Homo sapiens: one gene and its partner. The protein of the gene in region 1 interacts with the protein of each later gene in a biochemical or structural test. Each region holds a gene or a part of one and is shown in the gene's direction. Other genes may lie near its edges. The genes, in order: TRIM58 and DYNC1I1.

Region 1 (9,579 bases):
TTGTTCCTGCTTTTCTTCCTACCCTGCCATCAATTAATCAAATATATATGCTTCTTATCTTTCTTTAAATCTTATATAAAGCAGGAGAAAATACTCTTTTATAACTCATGGCATTTTGTCTTCTTGTGCTATGGAGTGTGTTTGCGGAAGATTCTTGAATTCACAGACATTCTTAACGCATGTCATATAACTATGAAGAGCCAATACGTATTTTTTGTATCAAACTGATTTACACAATAGGATTTACACAAACGGATTTAACACAATATGGAACACTGGATCCATATTAGCCCATTCATTGCAGATTCATTGCAGAAGTCTGTATATCTGGAAAAATGCCTCAGTGCCTTTCTCCTCCTCATTTTACACAGAATAGAGATAGCAAGGGGGTGTTGAGGGATCACTTCAAACTCATTGGAGAGCTTTTGTGGGCTTTCCTTGGAGAAGTGGCTAGAGAGGCCTACTATGGGTGTTTGTGCATTTATCAGCTGGAACAATGCGATCTATGCAAATACAGTTGGATCTGGGCTGCCTCCAAAGGCTATCAGAAAACCCCACAACTTTGCTGTCCCATTCCAACCACCCCAGCCACCCTAGAGCATCATTCGGACAGACAAAGCCTCTAATTCACAGTAATCCACAGGATGTCAATGCTGGCAACCACTGGGAAAGAGAAAAGTAGGGTCTATATACCACATCCAGTGGTGATAATTGTGAGTGTCATTGATATCCATTGCCTACCAATAAAGACTAAACTGTTTGGCATAGCATACAAAATTAGCCATGATCTCTTTCCCTGCATTGCCACCTGAGTGGGAGCCACATCCAGTCATACTAAAAATACAAAATCAGCCAGGCGTGATGGCATGTGTCTGTAATCCCAGCTACTCAGGAGGCTGAGGCAGGAGAATCGCTTGAACCCGGGAGGCAGAGGTTGCAGTGAGCCGAGGTCGTACCATTGCACTCCAGCCTGGGTGACAGAGCAAGACTCTCTCAAAAAAAAAAAAAAAAAAAAAAAAAGAAAAAAAGAAAAAAGAAAAAGAGAAAAAAATGCAGGGTTCAGTTGCGTGAATGAGGTCCTTTTAAAGCCAGAAGCAGGGAGGAAATGCTGAGTCAGCGGCTGCTAGTCTTGAGGGCTGTGCTTTTATTTTTGGCATTGTGAATTTGCCAACCCAATAGTCCTATAGACACACACACACACACACACACACACACACACACAGAGAGAGAGAGAGAGAGAGAGAGAGAGAGAGAGAGAGAGAATTTGACCCTTCTGGTCTTAGAGCTTGAAACTTACTTTTGTTTTATCTGAGTTCCTTCCTCAGGAAAGGACCACCAGCCCTCTTGAAAAGTAAAGTAACAAAGAACTGAAACTTACCGGATCACCCCAGGTCATCTCAACCAGTTAATGAGATGCCAGTCCAGTCCGCTTATTCAACATGATTGCTTCCTTACCCCTCCCTAGTTCCTCTTTTTCCACACAGTGTGCTATTTCTTCCCTGCCTCTATATAAGCCTCTAATTTTAGTCAGTCAGGGAGATGGATTTGAAACTGAGCTCCTATCTCCTCTGCTGCAGCACCTGATTAAAAGCTTCTTCTTTGGCAATAATCGTTGTCTCAGTGATTGGCTTTCTGTGTGGAGAGCAGCAGGACCTAGACCGAACTCCTGGTTTTTGGTAACAAATTGGGCTGATTTGGGGGCTATGGAGCTAGGAGATTGTGAATCCCCAAAGCTGAGGCAAAGGGTTTGGCCATGGAGAGCTGAGAAACTCTGTGAAAAGGGTTCAAAGTAGGGAAGAAAATATTGCTGTCCTGAAGAAATGGTTTCAGGAGCCCAAAGCCATGATACCAAAGAAATTACAAAAAAGAGCAGGGAGGAATAATGGTCAGATGACGGCAGATCCCATATTTTAAAGATGTCACAGAAGGCAGGACACAACTGAAGAGGAATATTAGAGAAGGAGGATGGTTGCAGGTGGTATTAGCTAAAAGATTTGCAACTCTGCAACCTGTAAATGAGTCACAGGGTGGAGTTAGCCTATAAATTAAGGAGTGGGGTGCATTAGAATTTGGTCGTATTGGCATAAACCAAGAGGTGCTTTATTTACGCCAAAAGAAAGCTCATGAGAAAATACAAATTTAAGTTAGAGTATTCCCATTAAACCAGAAACTGCCTGGCGAGGCACTCCACATAGCATTTGTAAATACAATGACATCTGGATATAATCCAGTCCACAACTTACCTGCATGGACGTGCTGTAAGGGAAATGTGTGTTTCTAAGAACAATGGTACCGATGTCATTCCTAGTCAACCAGTGTCAGAGACAAAACAGTTTAAGCTCAGCAACTCTAGGACCAGCAGGGGAAGAAGTGAGCTCGCCCACTCCGTCACACCCTACTGAAAACCACAGTGACCCCCAACGTCAGAAGCCAGGGGCCTTTCCTTAGGATCACAGGCACTAGGAAATCTGAATTTAAGTGAGCCTAGTTATCAACTGGCCCATATATTTGAGTAAATGGATTGTTTTACTGTGTCTCGTTATGCCTGCAAAATAGAAAAATGCTCCAGCATCTGCCAGAGTTATGGAGAGCCAGGGCAAGATCATATATGTAAAATGCAGAAAAACATGGATTTGACATTTGACATAATATAATCATCTTTGAACTTCCCTCTTTCATTAGCTCCTATGATAAACTGTCCTAATTCTGTTCATTTACTTATTAACTTGTTTAATCAGTTAGTATGTGTGGAGTGTCCATTTGTGCCAGTTACTCTTCAAGGTCCTGGGGATAGATAGAGCAGTGAACAAAATAGAAAAAAATCTCTCTTCCTAATGTAGCTTACCTTTTGACTCACCATCCTTCCATTCACTTCACTATTTCATTTCCTTTTCTTCAATTAAATATATTTGCTACATGGCCGGGCGAGGTGGCTCACACTTGTAATCCCAGCACTTTGGGAGGCCAAGGTGGGGAGATTGTTTGAACCCAGGAGTTTGAGACCAGCCTGGGCAACAGGGCGAAACTCTGTCTCTACAAAAAATACAAAAATTAGCTGGGCGTGGTGGCGGGCACCTGTAGTCGCAGGTACTTGGGAGGCTGAGGTGAGAAGATCACTTGAGCCTGAAAGGTAGAGGCTACAGTGAGTCAGGTTGTGGCACTACACTATAGCCTGGGCAGCAGAGCAAGACCCTGTCTCAATATATATACGTGTGTGTGTGTGTGTGTGTGTGTGTGTGTGTGTATTTCCAACATGCCAGGACCTATATTAAGTGTCTACTATCTATTAGCTCGTTTAATACTCTGAAAGGCCTTATATGAATGACACTAACACCTCTTCACTGCACGTCAGAAGAAATGCAGGGCAGAAACGCGGCACAGCTTGCCTCAAGCTTCTCAGCAAGTGCCACAGCCCTTAGTCCGGAGCCAGAGTCTGTTTTTCTTTGCTAAGCCTTCTGCTCTTTAGCTTTTTTCTCTAATGCCACATCTTTCGTGTTTTGCTAATACAGATCCATGTGTGTTCTCCAAGAATCTATTCGCTTTAATTGCGCACTTAACCTTTAGGCCTCAAGATCCTCTGCTCTGCCTGTCGCCAGAGATCCAGCCCAAGAGTTTGTCCTTATAATGAAGACCCACAAACCCCAGAGGATCCCCAAGGACCTGAGTCATCTGGCCCCGCCTCTTGCTGCAGCCTTATCTGCTGCCACCATATTCTGGCCCAGCTTGCCAGCCTGCCTGGCTTCTCACTGTCATCTGGGTATGTCTTGCTCCCACCTGCTGAAGTTTACCTTGTACCTTTCATGGCTTCTGGGGGCACGGCCTTGCGGAGCCCCCCTTCCCGCTGGCCAGCTTGTGTTCACCTATCAGAGGTTTGCTCAGAGACCTCAGGTGTCTGCCCCCGACCCTGCAGCCTCATTCAGAGTCCTCTGTTATATTCCTGCAGGACTGGTGAGCGACCTTCCTTGCAGTTATTGGTTTGTAATTATATGTTTGCATGATTTCATATCCACCTCTTCTAGTTGATCTTAAGGCTCCTGGAGAAATGGGGTCCCACCTCTTTTCCTTAACATGTGTATTTTCAGTACCCGGTGCAATGTCTGAGACTCCTGGCTACAAACAGACACAATGTGTGCTCAGGGACAGATTGATTTGCCACAGGTACACCCCACCATCACTTCAAACTCGACCATACTAAAGTTATTTTGCACAGATGCAGACACTGCCTCAGACTTGTCGACTTTCTGGACGACATTAGAGACTTTAATGTACTTTATCCTGATTCAGCCTTCCACTGGATGAAGTAACATACTCTGTCAAATCATTTTGCTCCTGTCTCAGCCTCCCCCATCTGACAGGTACACCACTGAGAGGCTAAGCTTGAATTATTCCTCTGATGAGTATCTCTATAGCTTTGTCATCTCCAAGACTGGCTTTGCAACAATCCTACAACATGTGTGTATTCCTTGTAGGATCCTCATTGAACTAGGCCAGATATTTATTTAAATATTTAGAATTATTTTTGGCTGGGCTGTAAACCTATAGTTACACACACCTATGCAGGCATCTTCCCGTGTCAGGCGGTGTCTCATTTCTTTATCAAGAGGTAATTAGTGCAAGAGAAAAAAATGAAGTTTGAAAAAAACATTTAAAAATTGATTATGCCATATAAAGGGGGAAAGCCTTTTAAGAAACGATTATGGCATGAGAGGACCATGGAGTAGCTCAGTAACAATGGAAGGGGCTCGGAGGGTGGAAGGCGGGCGAGGGATGAGAGATCACCTAATGAGAACAATTTACGCTATCACAGCGATGCCTGCGCTAAAGCCTAGACTTTATGCAGTGTCTCCATGTAACAAAACTGCACTGGTACCCCAGAAATCTGCACTAAATCTATATAATGATGATGGAGGCTGGGCGCGGTGGCTCGCGCCTGTAATCCCAGCACTCTGGGAGGTCGAGGCGGGCAGATCACCTGAGGTCACGAGTTCAAGACCAGGCTGACCAAAATGGTGAAACCCCGTCTCTACTAAAAATACAAAAATTAGCCGGGCATGGTGGCGGGCGCCTGTAATCCCTGCTGCTTGCGAGGCTGAGGCAGGAGAATCGCTTGAACCCGGGAGGCGGAGGCTGCAGTGAGCCGAGATCGCGCCACCGCACTCCAGCCTGGGCGACAGAGCGAGACTCCCTCTCAAAAAAACAAAAACAAAAACAAACAAACAAAGATGGAAGGAAGGAGGGAATTTAGCAATTCTCCAGATCTACTGCCAGTGAAAATAGCATATGAGGAGGGATTCCAGTTAGAAATGCCCAGTTTCCTGGGTGTGTGTGTGACGGGGGCGGGGAACCACAACGTTAATTTTATCCCCGACATAGGGAGCGCCTGAGTGGTGGCTTTTCACCGGGTGTGGCTCGTCTGAGCTCTTGAACTGAAGCCAGCGGACACCACCCGTCGGCGCCTGCTTTCCTGGGGCGTGGGCTCCTCCCCCTGTGCAGACCGCGAGGGGAGACGGTGCGGGCGGCCGGGAGCGCAGCCCTCCGGGAGGCGGGTCATGGCCTGGGCGCCGCCCGGGGAGCGGCTGCGCGAGGATGCGCGGTGCCCGGTGTGCCTGGATTTCCTGCAGGAGCCGGTCAGCGTGGACTGCGGCCACAGCTTCTGCCTCAGGTGCATCTCCGAGTTCTGCGAGAAGTCGGACGGCGCGCAGGGCGGCGTCTACGCCTGTCCGCAGTGCCGGGGCCCCTTCCGGCCCTCGGGCTTTCGCCCCAACCGGCAGCTGGCGGGCCTGGTGGAGAGCGTGCGGCGGCTGGGGTTGGGCGCGGGGCCCGGGGCGCGGCGATGCGCGCGGCACGGCGAGGACCTGAGCCGCTTCTGCGAGGAGGACGAGGCGGCGCTGTGCTGGGTGTGCGACGCCGGCCCCGAGCACAGGACGCACCGCACGGCGCCGCTGCAGGAGGCCGCCGGCAGCTACCAGGTGAGGCGCCCCCCGGCGGGGGCTGCGGGCGCTGCGGTGACCGGGAAGCGGGCGACAGTCCGGAGCGGAGCCGCCGAGGCCACCCGTCTCCTGAGCGGCTCCCACGGCCGCTCCCCCCACCGCGCGCCGTCCCCCCCGCCCACGCGGCTCACTCAGTGTGGGTCTCTTTGCCTTGGCTGTGGTAACCCCCTTTGCGACACACACCCATTATTTTACACCGTCCGCCCCTCCCCCAAGCACTCTCCTGTCGTCGAACTCGCGCTGGGCTGGTTTCTCCCGATGCGGATAGTCTGGTCCCTCAGCTGGGCTCTGGTCGGGAGGGCTGTGTGGTCCAGTTCATTCTTGGTAACAATTGTACGTCTATATCGTAAACTTGCCATAATAATTCTCATTTGTGCAATGCTTTGCTTTTGCACAGTGTTTACATTAAATGAGTGTTGTCAGCAAAGCAACCCTCGGGTTTGGGCGTTGTTAAGAAGAGTGTCGAGCTGGGTACGGGTTCCGACCCCTCCAAAGCTCAGGTGCACGTGCCTCCTGAAGTAGGAGCGGGTGGCTCTCCATCAGCAGGGATTTGGGGACTTAGGATTCGAACATCCTCAATGAAGAGGTGCTTCATTTGGGGTGTAGCCCGGGAAGCTTCAAAGAGAAAGAAGAAAAACAAAATGGGAGTATTTGGTCCCCAGAGTGGCATCTGTGAAATTGTGTGTCGATTTCTTCCTACTGGTGCCCTTCAAAAGTTCTTGGATGTTTTCTGAACACACTTGAATCCCAGCATGTAGAACAACTGCCAGCACAGAGGAGGTCTAAGTCGTCTTTACTGACAGATTTAACCAAAGGACTGTCAGTCGCGCTGTAGTGCATTGCAAATACTTTCTTAAAATTTTTATTTATTTATTTTGTTTGTTTTAAATTAAGGTTTAGGATATTTTCCCCTTCCTTCTCTACCAATATCTCTCTTGGTATTTCTTCTTGATTTTCGTTGTCATTTGCGAGATGTAGGTACTAGTACTAGGTAATTTCTAGCTAAACTTTTCTGGAATGTTCTTGCCTTTTTAAAAAAAGTCCAGAAAGAGGATTGGTAGTAACTTTTTTTTTTTTTTTTTTTTTTTTTTGAGACGGAGTCTAGTTCTGTAGCTCAGGCTGGAGGGCAGTGGCGCAATCTCGGCTCATTGCAACCTCCGTCTCCCGGGTCCTGGTGCAAGCAATTCTCCTGCCTCAGCCTCCCGGGTAGCTGGGATTACAGGTATGCGTCACCACACCCGGCTAATTTTTGTATTTTTAGTAGAGACGGGGTTTCACTGTGTTGGCCAGGCTGGTCTTGAACTCCTGACCTTGTGATCCATCCGCCGTGGCCTCCCAAAGTGCTGGTGTTACAGGCAGCCCAGCCTCTAGTGTAATATTTCTAAAGGTGTTCTCCATATTTTCAGTAGTTCTTCGGTTAAATACCAAATAAATATTATCTAAACTCCTGAGCCTCTCAGTGAAAGCTTTCTAGGGCCCTAAGTTATGTTTCCATAGCTCTCTTGTCTTAACCAGCCAGGAAACCCAGCAAATTTAGCCGAATCACTGTTTTCCTAACTGTGCTACATCTCCTTGCTTTTGCTGACAGTTTCTTTGGCCTGAGGGAGCTTTTCTTTATCTACAAGTGTCAAAGTGCTCCGTTCTTTGTAAACACCAAAACACATGCCACTTTCCCCACTGAGTCAAATGGTATCATGAATTCTACTGTTATTTTATATATAACAATTATAATATTCTCCTTTTAAAAACAATTGATGTGTATGTAGGATTTATTGAGTAACTTTGGGAATATAATTTTTTAATTAAAATCCTGTTTATGTATGTATCTTTGTGAGTATTTAAAATACACATATTTACCTCTAGTGAGCGCCCTATCATTGAAGGAAGATTTAGTTCTCATTGTATTTTTACTCATTGCAAGGTTTACAACATACTGTGTTTTTTCATATAAAATATGATAACCTACCAAGTTCCTTCTGACCTAATAATACTACTAATACTACAATAATAAACCCATGCTTTATCATAAAGTAACCAATAACTTCAAGAAGTTGAAGTTATATAGAGAAATACAGAATACAGTTATATAGAGAAATATATAAATATAGAGAAATGTATAAATATAGTTATATAGAGAAATATATGAAATATAGAGATATAATAGCATCACTCTTCATCCAAACACCAATAGATGACATTTTATCTAATATCATTCTCATTTACATCAGCCCAGTTTTAATATATTCATTACCAGCACATTTTTTTTCAAAATTCATGTTGTTTTGTAAAATATTTTTATTCATTGGACATTATCATTGTATTTCTAGTCATTAAACATTCTGTAACATCTTATTTTAATTCTATCCAGTTAATATAATTTTTTTCTCCCCTATCTTTAATGTTTTAGTTTAGTTATGCTATCGTATATAACAATGCAGTGAGCATACTTTTAGATAAATATTTGATTGTATCTGGTATTAAAATACATTTAAGGAGCTAGGCCCAGTGGCTCATGCCTATAATCCCAGCACTTTGGAAGGCCAAGATGGGAGACTCTCTGGAGGCCAGCAGTTTGACACCAGCCTGGGCAATATAGTAAGACCCCATCTCTACAGAAAACAAAATTAGCTGAATGTAATGATGTGTGCCTGGAGTCCTAGCTGCTTGGGAGGCTGAGGTGGGAGGATCATTTGATCCCAGGAGTTTGAGGCTGCAGTGAGCCATGATCGCAACACTGCACAACCTGAGTGACAGAGCGAGACCCTGACACTAAAACTTAAGTACATTTATGTTTAGTTTTTAATGATATTGAACATTTTTATGTGCTTTCTAGGGACTGTTTAAGTTGACTTTTGTATTTCCTCACACATCTGTGTGACGTTAGGTACAGATTGAGGGCATCTGTAACAGCTGAAATGTTCCCAAACAGGTAAAGCTCCAGATGGCTCTGGAACTTATGAGGAAAGAGTTGGAGGACGCCTTGACTCAGGAGGCCAACGTGGGGAAAAAGACTGTCATTTGGAAGGTAAGACCATGTTGGGGCTTTAGGAGGCTTGCCTGTTTGAAGGATCCAGATTCGGGTCAGTAATTCTTCTACCATCTTCCATTCTCCAGCACTTTTGTTCCATCTCCATATATGCCCAAGAGCACCTCAGAGCCATCCTGGGTCATCCCGTCCCCTCAAATGATATGGTTCATTTTTGTTCTTTTTGTCTCTACTGCCATCACCCAATCCAAATTATAATTAAATAGCTTTGCTAGTTTGATCTTCCTGTAAAACCCACTGCTGTATCCCTGTCACCTAGAATAGCATCTTATACTGTTGCTACCAGTTTGAAAATATTTGTTAGGTGAATGAAATAATGAATATTTCACAACTTTGTAACAGAAGAAGTGTAGCCCAAGGTGATCATCTTATATACAGGGTAATAATCTGAACGTTTAGCCTTTTTTTTCTATCATCTATACATACACATATTCCATTTTTTTATACCTCACTAGCTCTTTTTATTCCATGTTTCATTCATGCACATGTGCGTGCACACGTGTACACACACACACAGTGATTCATACACACACAGTGATTCAC
Region 2 (8,671 bases), on another chromosome or scaffold:
AAGGGATATGTGTTTAGTAGCTAATATGACAGTTGAGCTTGTGTAGCACATGCTTTTGCTTTTTCCTACCATTTTCTTGATCTTTTGTGTTATGGAAAACAAGTTATTCATGTTTAGAAAGTTTATTTTTCATTATTGCCCATCAACCAGCGTTTTTAGCATTTTCTCCATCTTTTGGGCAGAGAAATAGATTGTTCCAAATAGTAGGGAAAAAAATAAGGCGAAAAGATTTCTGAGGAAAGAAGGATGATAAGATTTTAATACAAATGTGAAGAAGACTATTCATCTTTAGGTCTTTGTGAATTAACTCTTTCTTCGGATATTTGTTGTTGTTGTTGTTGTTGTTTTGTTGTTGTTTTTCTTCCACAGGTAAAACCTTCAGAATGTTGTCATGCTTCCTATAATGCTAAATTTTAACATGAAAAATATTTTACATGTTACTTTCTTAAGATAGTGTTTAAGGAGAAGGATATATATTTCCTTCTATATTCGCTGGCTTATTGAAATTGATAGAGACCCATATTTGTTACTATTTACTTGACTTTTATGTCCTACTTTTATTTCTTTCCTTAATTAGGTGGTAATGGATTTTTTAAAAAGTGTTACTGTAAAAAAAAAACGTGGTAAAAATAGTAAAAATAAACCACTCCTTTAAAGATACAAGGGAAGAGACCTTTGGCAGAGAGGTCTGAAGCTTCATGGGTGGATGAGGGTTCCCTTAGATGGGATTTCCAGATGAAAAGAAATTAAAAAACAATCAAATACCATCTGACCACCATAGGTAAGAATGTTGCTTAATTTTACAGAAATTTGTACCTATTGACTGGTAATAGCAGACTGTGCTGTACAGAGACTAATGTAACTCCTACTTTGTCGACTTCTTTGAAACTGCTCTAAATAAGTTACATACCATATATCTTTTTGTGGTAGAACACTGTAGTATATTTACACCCTCTGTATATTGCATTCTAACTTGGAATTCTGGTCCGTGGTTTCATCCATTGTTAGCTGCGATGCTAGACTCTCCCGGGAGTTAAATACAGTGGGGCTGTATTTATGTGAAGCGGGTATGCTTGGTCGTTCAGTGGCTGTTTCATTGCATATTACCTCCCACTTTGCTCCCATCTGTGTGTGTGGTAAAGGGAATTGTCCTAAAAAATACAGGCTTCCTCTGAACACAGACATGTATTTGTATACCAGTAAGTCAACAATCTCCTGAATTTGGGTGCCATTAATAATTGTCCTTTTTAAAAGGCTTTTAGAGCTTAGAGGGGGTTAGCAGTCGTTCTGTGGAAACCGATGTACATTTCCACATTTTCTGTAAATGCATTAAAAAATAATGTGTATTAAAGTGAAAGGAAATCTGTAAGATATCTTTTTAACAGAAAACTTTAATTTTTAGATTAATACAGAGATGAATTGTCGTGTATCTCTTGGAAATCAATGGTTAACATGATAGTCTCACACACTTTTTAAAATTACTTCATCTAATTGAAAAATTACAAAGAGGCTGATGAGCCACACATCCATGGAATATTTATCTTGAAACCTAGAGTCCTACTCACTTAATGTCTTGGCCATACTTCATGTATCTGAGAAACCAACTGAAATCAGAGCGCTTTTCTAACGTCTTAATTATGCAAGATTTTAAAAAAAGAAAACTAAAGTAAGCAATACCTGAGACAGATATTTTTACTATGAAAAATATTGCACTGGGATGGTGAAAGTTACTGCAGATAATGCAGCTATTTAAAATTATTATAGCTGCAATTACTAAAAAATGAGGAAGGTTTGACTGAGAACTATTCAAAATAGTTATTAGCCATGTGATTATAAAAAGGAACACATGAATGATATTTGCATGTTTAACCCTGGTTATAAAAAGTCATTTGATTTTTTTAACAGCATGTACAGCAGTTACAAATCCTTACAACTTTAGGTAAAAATGAAGAATCCCACTGTGGAAAGTGCCACAAGGAAAGAGCTGGATTAGGATGTATTAGTCACATGTGAAAAATAAAAAATATGTATGTGCATGTCTACATATGTGTGTGGATGTGTATAGTTACAATAAATACTTATATTTTAAACTTGATTTTTAAACCAACAATGGAAAGTAGCAACTCTGAAAGAATTTTTCTTGTGATTTGAAAGAACTCTTTCCCTGTCCCCCGTTCATGAAAGTTAGCTATTATTAAAAGCCTGACTACTTAGGAAATTATTTGTGTGGGTATTTCAGACATAAAATGTGATAAAATATAAGGTATACTTCTAAAAAAAAAAGTACAGCTCTAAATAGGTGAAAAGAAGAAAGAGAATATGCAAGGAAGAAAGAAAATAAAAAAATTGGAAGAAAGGAATAAACATTAAGAAGGAAAAACAACATCATGTATTCAGGGTTTATAGTGTACAAGCACTGTGTTAAGCTTATTACATTTTTTTGTTTTATTTAATATACAGTCCTAGAAGATGGATCTTACAATTTGTTTCACACAAATGAGGAAGTAAAGATCAGAAGTGTTAAAACCATGCATTCCCTAAAGACACACAGCAAGTTAATGGCAAATCTGGGAAAGAAACCAGGATCTGGCTGGTGAAGCAGAAAAAAAGTCAACCCTGGCTCCATTCTCAAATGTTATTACTCCACAGTCTGTGCCTCCCTTTAGGTATACAGGACACCCAGGCAAGGCGAGCAAGGGTTAGACTGATAAGTTTTTCAGGGGTGAGGTGGGACCGGGTTCAGAGGCAGCCTCCAGTCCACTCAGGCAGAGAGGAGGGGACTGATCCCTGACATGGTCCGAGAAGTAGTGGGGTAGCCTGGGTGGTGGGGCTCTGGGAGGCTAAAATGATACATTTTCATGAATTTTTCCACAACTTTTGCACTTTTGCTTTTGCTTGTAGACTTTTTGTCTTCCAAGAATCTTAGAAGATTTAAAACAATCTTTACAATCTTTGAGCAGGTGATTCAAAACACATTACCTGCCTGCCCTTCTGTCATGGAATGCTGGCATTTCTCAAAGGGGTGAGTCTTGATTGCCCCACACTAACAGGTGAAGGTTATGTGGTCTTTAGCAAATCATTTAGCTCCCTATACTGTCCTCTCCTACCTGTTAAAGAAAGGTCTACGCCCTGCTTCTTAACATCCTCACATAACAATCAGAATTAATTCCCAAGGAAATTTTTTTAAAAAACAGAAAAATACTGTAAAATTGGTATGCATGCCACAAAACGTATCATTTTGGGGAGCTGTTCAATTTGACTGACAATTTAAAGAAAAAGAATGCATGACAATCCATGATGAACTCATAGTACTTTCTTTACTTTGATTACCTTTCTCATGCTCTCCACATCTCTGTTGATGAATGGGTCAGATATCATCATCCTTATTTTACAATTGAGGCAGTGAGAGGGTAAGTGCCTGACCGTTGCCAGCAACCAAGATAAGAACAGGACTTGAGTCTCCTGTCCAAATCTGAGGTTCATTTTACCTCTTTCTTATGTCCAAATTGCTACCTCAGTAACTACCTTTGCCCTTAGTTTCATTGGCTGTAAAAATGGGATTGTATCATATCTATAAAAGGTGATCTCTTTTAGAGTTAAGATTTTATTATCTCAGGAATCTGAGCCTCAAGTACTTTTGGCATGAAAATGCTTTATATGTTTAGCAAAAAATTAGAAAACAGTCATTGAATCAGGAGATGGACTGGCTGTTGGTGAACTCAGTCGATGAAGCAGTTGGAATATCTGAGTCATCCCTAACCTATGATGCAGACTTCATCAGAGATGAATCTGGAGGCAGAAAATGTTTCCAGATCCACATTGACTTAGAACAATGCTGGGAAATTTTTGAAGTTTTTTTTTTTAATGGTGTTCCCTTAATTGAACTATACATTTTTAATTGGTCAAAATAACTTATGATCTTTTTTCCTATCACAAACATAAATTGTTTGGAAATTATTCTAAGCTATTATTCTCAGAGAAAAAATCCATAGTGATACTCTAGATTTAGCCTTTATGCCTTAATAGAAACTTGAAGAGATGCTGAAGCAATGTTATTAACATGCCATTTGCCTCCCTGTTACTTGCTTGACACACAACAGATATCAGGAAATGTTACAGTTGTCACTGAAGGAAGGTAAATTTTAGGCTATTCACTTTTTAATGTCAGTGAAGTTTTTTTAATGCCAGTATTCACACAGTTTGACCTACAAAAAACATAATTAATTTTTGTCTGTATTTCATAGTCTTCATATTCCAAAATGATTCACTACTGTATCTTTAATTCAAACACAGTGCCTGACATATAAATGGCACTCAATCAATGCTGATTGAATGAGTATTGAATACATTTATATGCAAGGTAGGACATGAGAGCAGTCTGTTCTGTAAGAAACATGAACAAAGATTTTTCCTATTTAATGATTAAGATAGTGTTGGATTAAAAAATCTCCTAGAGAAAATCATAAATGCATTTATGTTCTTGAGCCTACTTTCTAGCCATTTCTAATCAGAGACTACCACGTGAGAAGAGCCAGGAACTGCCAAGGGTAAGAAGGGCAGTTCTGTCCAAACAGATGCCATTTACAGTCATGGAAACAGCAAAGTGAAAAGAGTGGCCCTGGCCCTCTTGTTTGTTAGGACACCTGTTTGGTCTTACCTACAAGTAATTCTAATGCCAAAAATTATTACTTTGGGTGTAGAAACAGCCTGTGAATACACATTCACACTTTCAAGCTAAGATGATACTTAAAGTACTTCCTGATGGTGATATTTAATTCTAAAAATGGGGCAGTCTGCAGTTCACCTTCTAAATCTAACATTACAATCACCTTGGGTTATTTTTACAGTCAACAAGATGAAAAGGATAGTAGGATGAGGTAGATAAATTGATTTCAAGTTTCTAGGAGGAATTGTGTTTTCATCATGTTCTACTCTAGAATTTTTGTGAAGCAAGAAAATAAATATTTCTGTGAAAATTAAGATACCATGAAAAGGAAAAGACTTGGCAAAACAAATATCCCTAAAAAACAAACTTCAAACATTTTGCCAGTCTAAATGAAACTTCAGCAGATCAAAAAGAGGACAAGATGTGTTAGATTACTGTGACACTTTTATGAGGGTGAATCTATATTTCTAAGGGCATGTGTTAGTATTACAGCACTATTACTCCCACCTCCATGAAGAAAGTCACATGTAGTTCACTCGCTGGCTTATGTTTTGTGTGTTTAACAGAAACATTTAAATTTGATAAAACTCATTTTTATGAAGTTATGTAATTTTTGAGATGTGTAATTTTATATAGTGTAAATGAGACTCACTTCTGTTCTAAACTGTGTGTAGACATTTATTCAAACCTTAATGTTCCATAATCTTTACTAGGGCCGTTTCTGAACAGTCTTGCCATGACTACTACATGAAACTATGTAAATACATTTACCTATTTTATTGTTAATAGTCTATAGTTTCTACACATGGCTATCAATAACATATTGCATAGGTCATCATGTATTAACTTAAATTTGTACGATTTTAACTAATAATATAGCTTTATGTTTGGGAACCAAACTCAGCTCTTTATGAGCAAGGTACTGTGTATTATTGAGACCTATTTTTTTCTCCAATATTTAAAGTTATATGAAGTTATGGGGCATTTTAGCTTTAGCTTGATTCTTACTTTATATGGGAAAAAGTTATAAATGTGTTACCATGATTAGGCTTTTGTCTCTTCTTGGGCTTTTGTTTCATGGTTATTTTTGGAAAGGCTTGCTCAGCGGTTGGAAGAAGGAAAAGAAATAGTGGTCCTATTCTTTTACATAAATGTGATACCAACCCTTAGTTGGTTATGGTTTTCGTGAGCTTGTTTGTATTGTACATTTTGGGGGCCTCATTTTCCAGGTGGAGTATTTTCTAAAATTGAAGAAAAAAAATGAAGAATCGTGGAATATAGGAAAAGAGTCCAAAGTAGGGAAAACAGACTGAGCAAAAGGGTATCAGAATCATTCAAGACTATTGTGAACTTGTGTTATTGCCTACAAAGAAATTTGGATTCATTTCAATAATTATAGTAGCATTTAACCATTCAGAAACTCATTCATGTGACTAAGTAAGAATTCTTATTGGTACTGCACTTCGCAAAATAAGTCAGAGAACTTACTTTCCTTGCCTCTATATCATTTCCAGAATTATATTCTTGAAACATTTAGCCTTAATACCAGAACACTAATTTAAGGATATACTTTGCACAATGAAGTTGCCACTTTCCAATAAGTTTTCTTGGACAGATAGTATTTGAGAATATTATCCTTGTAATAAAAATTTTAAGTTCTAATCATTTGGCTCTGTGTGGTGGGAAATTTTCCAGCTGTAGAAGCAATCTCAAAGCTTAGGTTTATTTGCTTCCTCTTTTTTCATTAAAAAATATATTAATTGAGATGGCTGTATGTTCTTAATGTTTATGGAATATGTGGATAGTGTAGTGTAGCACTAGTACCTATAGGTAAATTACACTATATTATAGCGTAAAACTCCAAGAAAATGCGTGTAAAATCTAAATGAATTTTATTCTGTGTGAAAAGCATTCAGACTTCTACTAAATCCTGTTTCTCATCCTCAAATTTTTTTTTCTATCCCAGATACTTGCATTATATTTTTAAGCAATTTATTTTTGGATGCTATGTGGAGAAATCATTATCCTTTAAAACGACTAACAAAAATTCATACATTCAGTTTGCATTGGAGGAGGCGTTAATTTCCTCCTCACTGAATTGTACACAGAAGATGTTTTGGAAATTTTATAAATCCCCCTTTTTGATGAATCAGTATAGCATACTGGCTAAGGATGCTCATACTGGAACCAGATTCCATTGACACTTATATTTGCTTGCTATGCAACCTTGGTAAGATTATTTAATCTTTCTGTGCCTCTAATATAGGAATGTGAGGCACAATAGGATTATTATGACGAATGAGTTAATGCATGTAATGTACTTAGAACAGAACTCTTGGTAAATAATAGCTACTATTACTACTATTCATAGTTATCATCATATAAATCTTACTGGAAAGGCCCAAGTACTATTTCATAGGAGGAATATTTCTTTGTATATATAAGCTATTCTTTTGCCCTTCATACTGCCCCATCAGCAACACTTTAGAAAAAGGATTAATACCATTGACTAGGAATAAAATATACAGTTATTTGAAAATCTTGGTCATTATATGCAGTTTTTATTTGCGTGTTCACTGTAAGTCTGGTCTTCTTATGAAAAAAATTTCATTACTAAAAGCACTTTGATGTGGCTACTGTAATTGTATAGTTTGCATAGGTTTTTAAAGTTTTATAAATTATGTGAGTGCTTTTGCTTCCAAGAGTGACATGGTTCTCTTGTTAGTTTAAGAGCAACACCTCAGGCCCTGCTTGATCCAAAGAAGAATGTTTGATTTCCTTTACATTCCAAGGGAAACATCTGCTTTGGAGGGTGTGGGGGCAAAGGGACAGTCATTCAGGCTTCAAGGCTTTCAGACATGAAAGATATCTTGTTCATCATTTCTCCATTGATTTGCTTTGCAGCTTGCAGTTCCCCACAATGATGAATGGACCCGATTTGCCAGGACCCTTGTGGAAATTCGTGCTAACAGAGCTGATAGCGAGGAGGAAGGCACTGTTGAGTTATCTGCCTAGTGGAAATGAGCCACCCCCACTGCAGCCCCCACCTTTGTGTCCTAGAGCTCAGCGTCTGCAGTCAAGTCTCTTGTATTCGGTGTCCATTCAGTATCAGTATTGCTGTGATATTTTGGGTGCCATATTGTGCCAGCTTTGCTCCAAGTATTCTAAATGTGTCCCATCATGCTTTCCACTGACCCAAAATTCACCACAGCATTTCTATCTTTATATTTCTGTCTCAAAAATGAAGAGAAGGGGGTTATGGGTTAAGTTGCTGCCTTTTAACTACTTTGTAGCTGTATTTAATAGCTGGAAACCTCTGGTTAAATTTGTGCTTACATGCACTCCTGGCATAGTCCTATTAAATCCATATGAAGCCAGATATGATTGGGTGCAGATGTGGTGTTCCTCATATTATGGTACAGGGCCAAAGACTTGAGACGTGGTGTTTTACATGGTGACTCACATTATGAATGGATTTACTAGAAGAACATTGCTGCTCCTTATTTATTGTAGTGTGCTGCATGGAACGTATTTATTTGAAAGCATTAAAATAAATGATCCTAGAGCATGTGCATAATGAGAGGACTGTATTCTCTCTGCTGCTGTTGAGGTTATATTAAGTTCCACATAGCAATTACAGTATGCCAGTTCCACTGAAGACATGAAATCTTTAGAGGTTTCTTGCAGTGAACGAAATGAATTTTAATGCCTATTATTTCTGGGTACTTTAACAATATTTCAAATATCATTGACCACTAATACTTCTCACTGAAGCTAACACAGTCTGACAAAAGTCTATGGTTCCTAAATATGACATCAGTGTTGCCAATAAAATGTTTCAAACCAGGTCTGCACCAGTGTGAGTAAATCCTTTGCTTGGGGAAAGCTTGACTGGAATTCTGCTGGGACAAGAGATGGGAGAGATACATTAGAGCCATGTTAAAGACTGATCATGAATTTATTTGAGCAGCCAACCTGGCTGGACTTAAACCAAGACTCCTAGTT

What was found.
Region 2: the proteins of TRIM58 (region 1) and DYNC1I1 form a complex in vitro, tested with the Homo sapiens proteins (one study listed by BioGRID).

Annotation. Positions count from the first base shown.
Region 1 is NC_000001.11:247,851,698-247,861,276, forward strand, and holds the start of TRIM58 (E3 ubiquitin-protein ligase TRIM58), read left to right. Parts: upstream 1-5,489; 5' UTR 5,490-5,549; coding exon 5,550-5,969; intron 5,970-8,919; coding exon 8,920-9,015; intron 9,016-9,579. UniProt on the Homo sapiens protein: E3 ubiquitin ligase induced during late erythropoiesis. Directly binds and ubiquitinates the intermediate chain of the microtubule motor dynein (DYNC1LI1/DYNC1LI2), stimulating the degradation of the dynein holoprotein complex.
Region 2 is NC_000007.14:96,089,913-96,098,583, forward strand, and holds the end of DYNC1I1 (cytoplasmic dynein 1 intermediate chain 1), read left to right. Parts: intron 1-7,570; coding exon 7,571-7,681; 3' UTR 7,682-8,512; downstream 8,513-8,671. UniProt on the Homo sapiens protein: Acts as one of several non-catalytic accessory components of the cytoplasmic dynein 1 complex that are thought to be involved in linking dynein to cargos and to adapter proteins that regulate dynein function.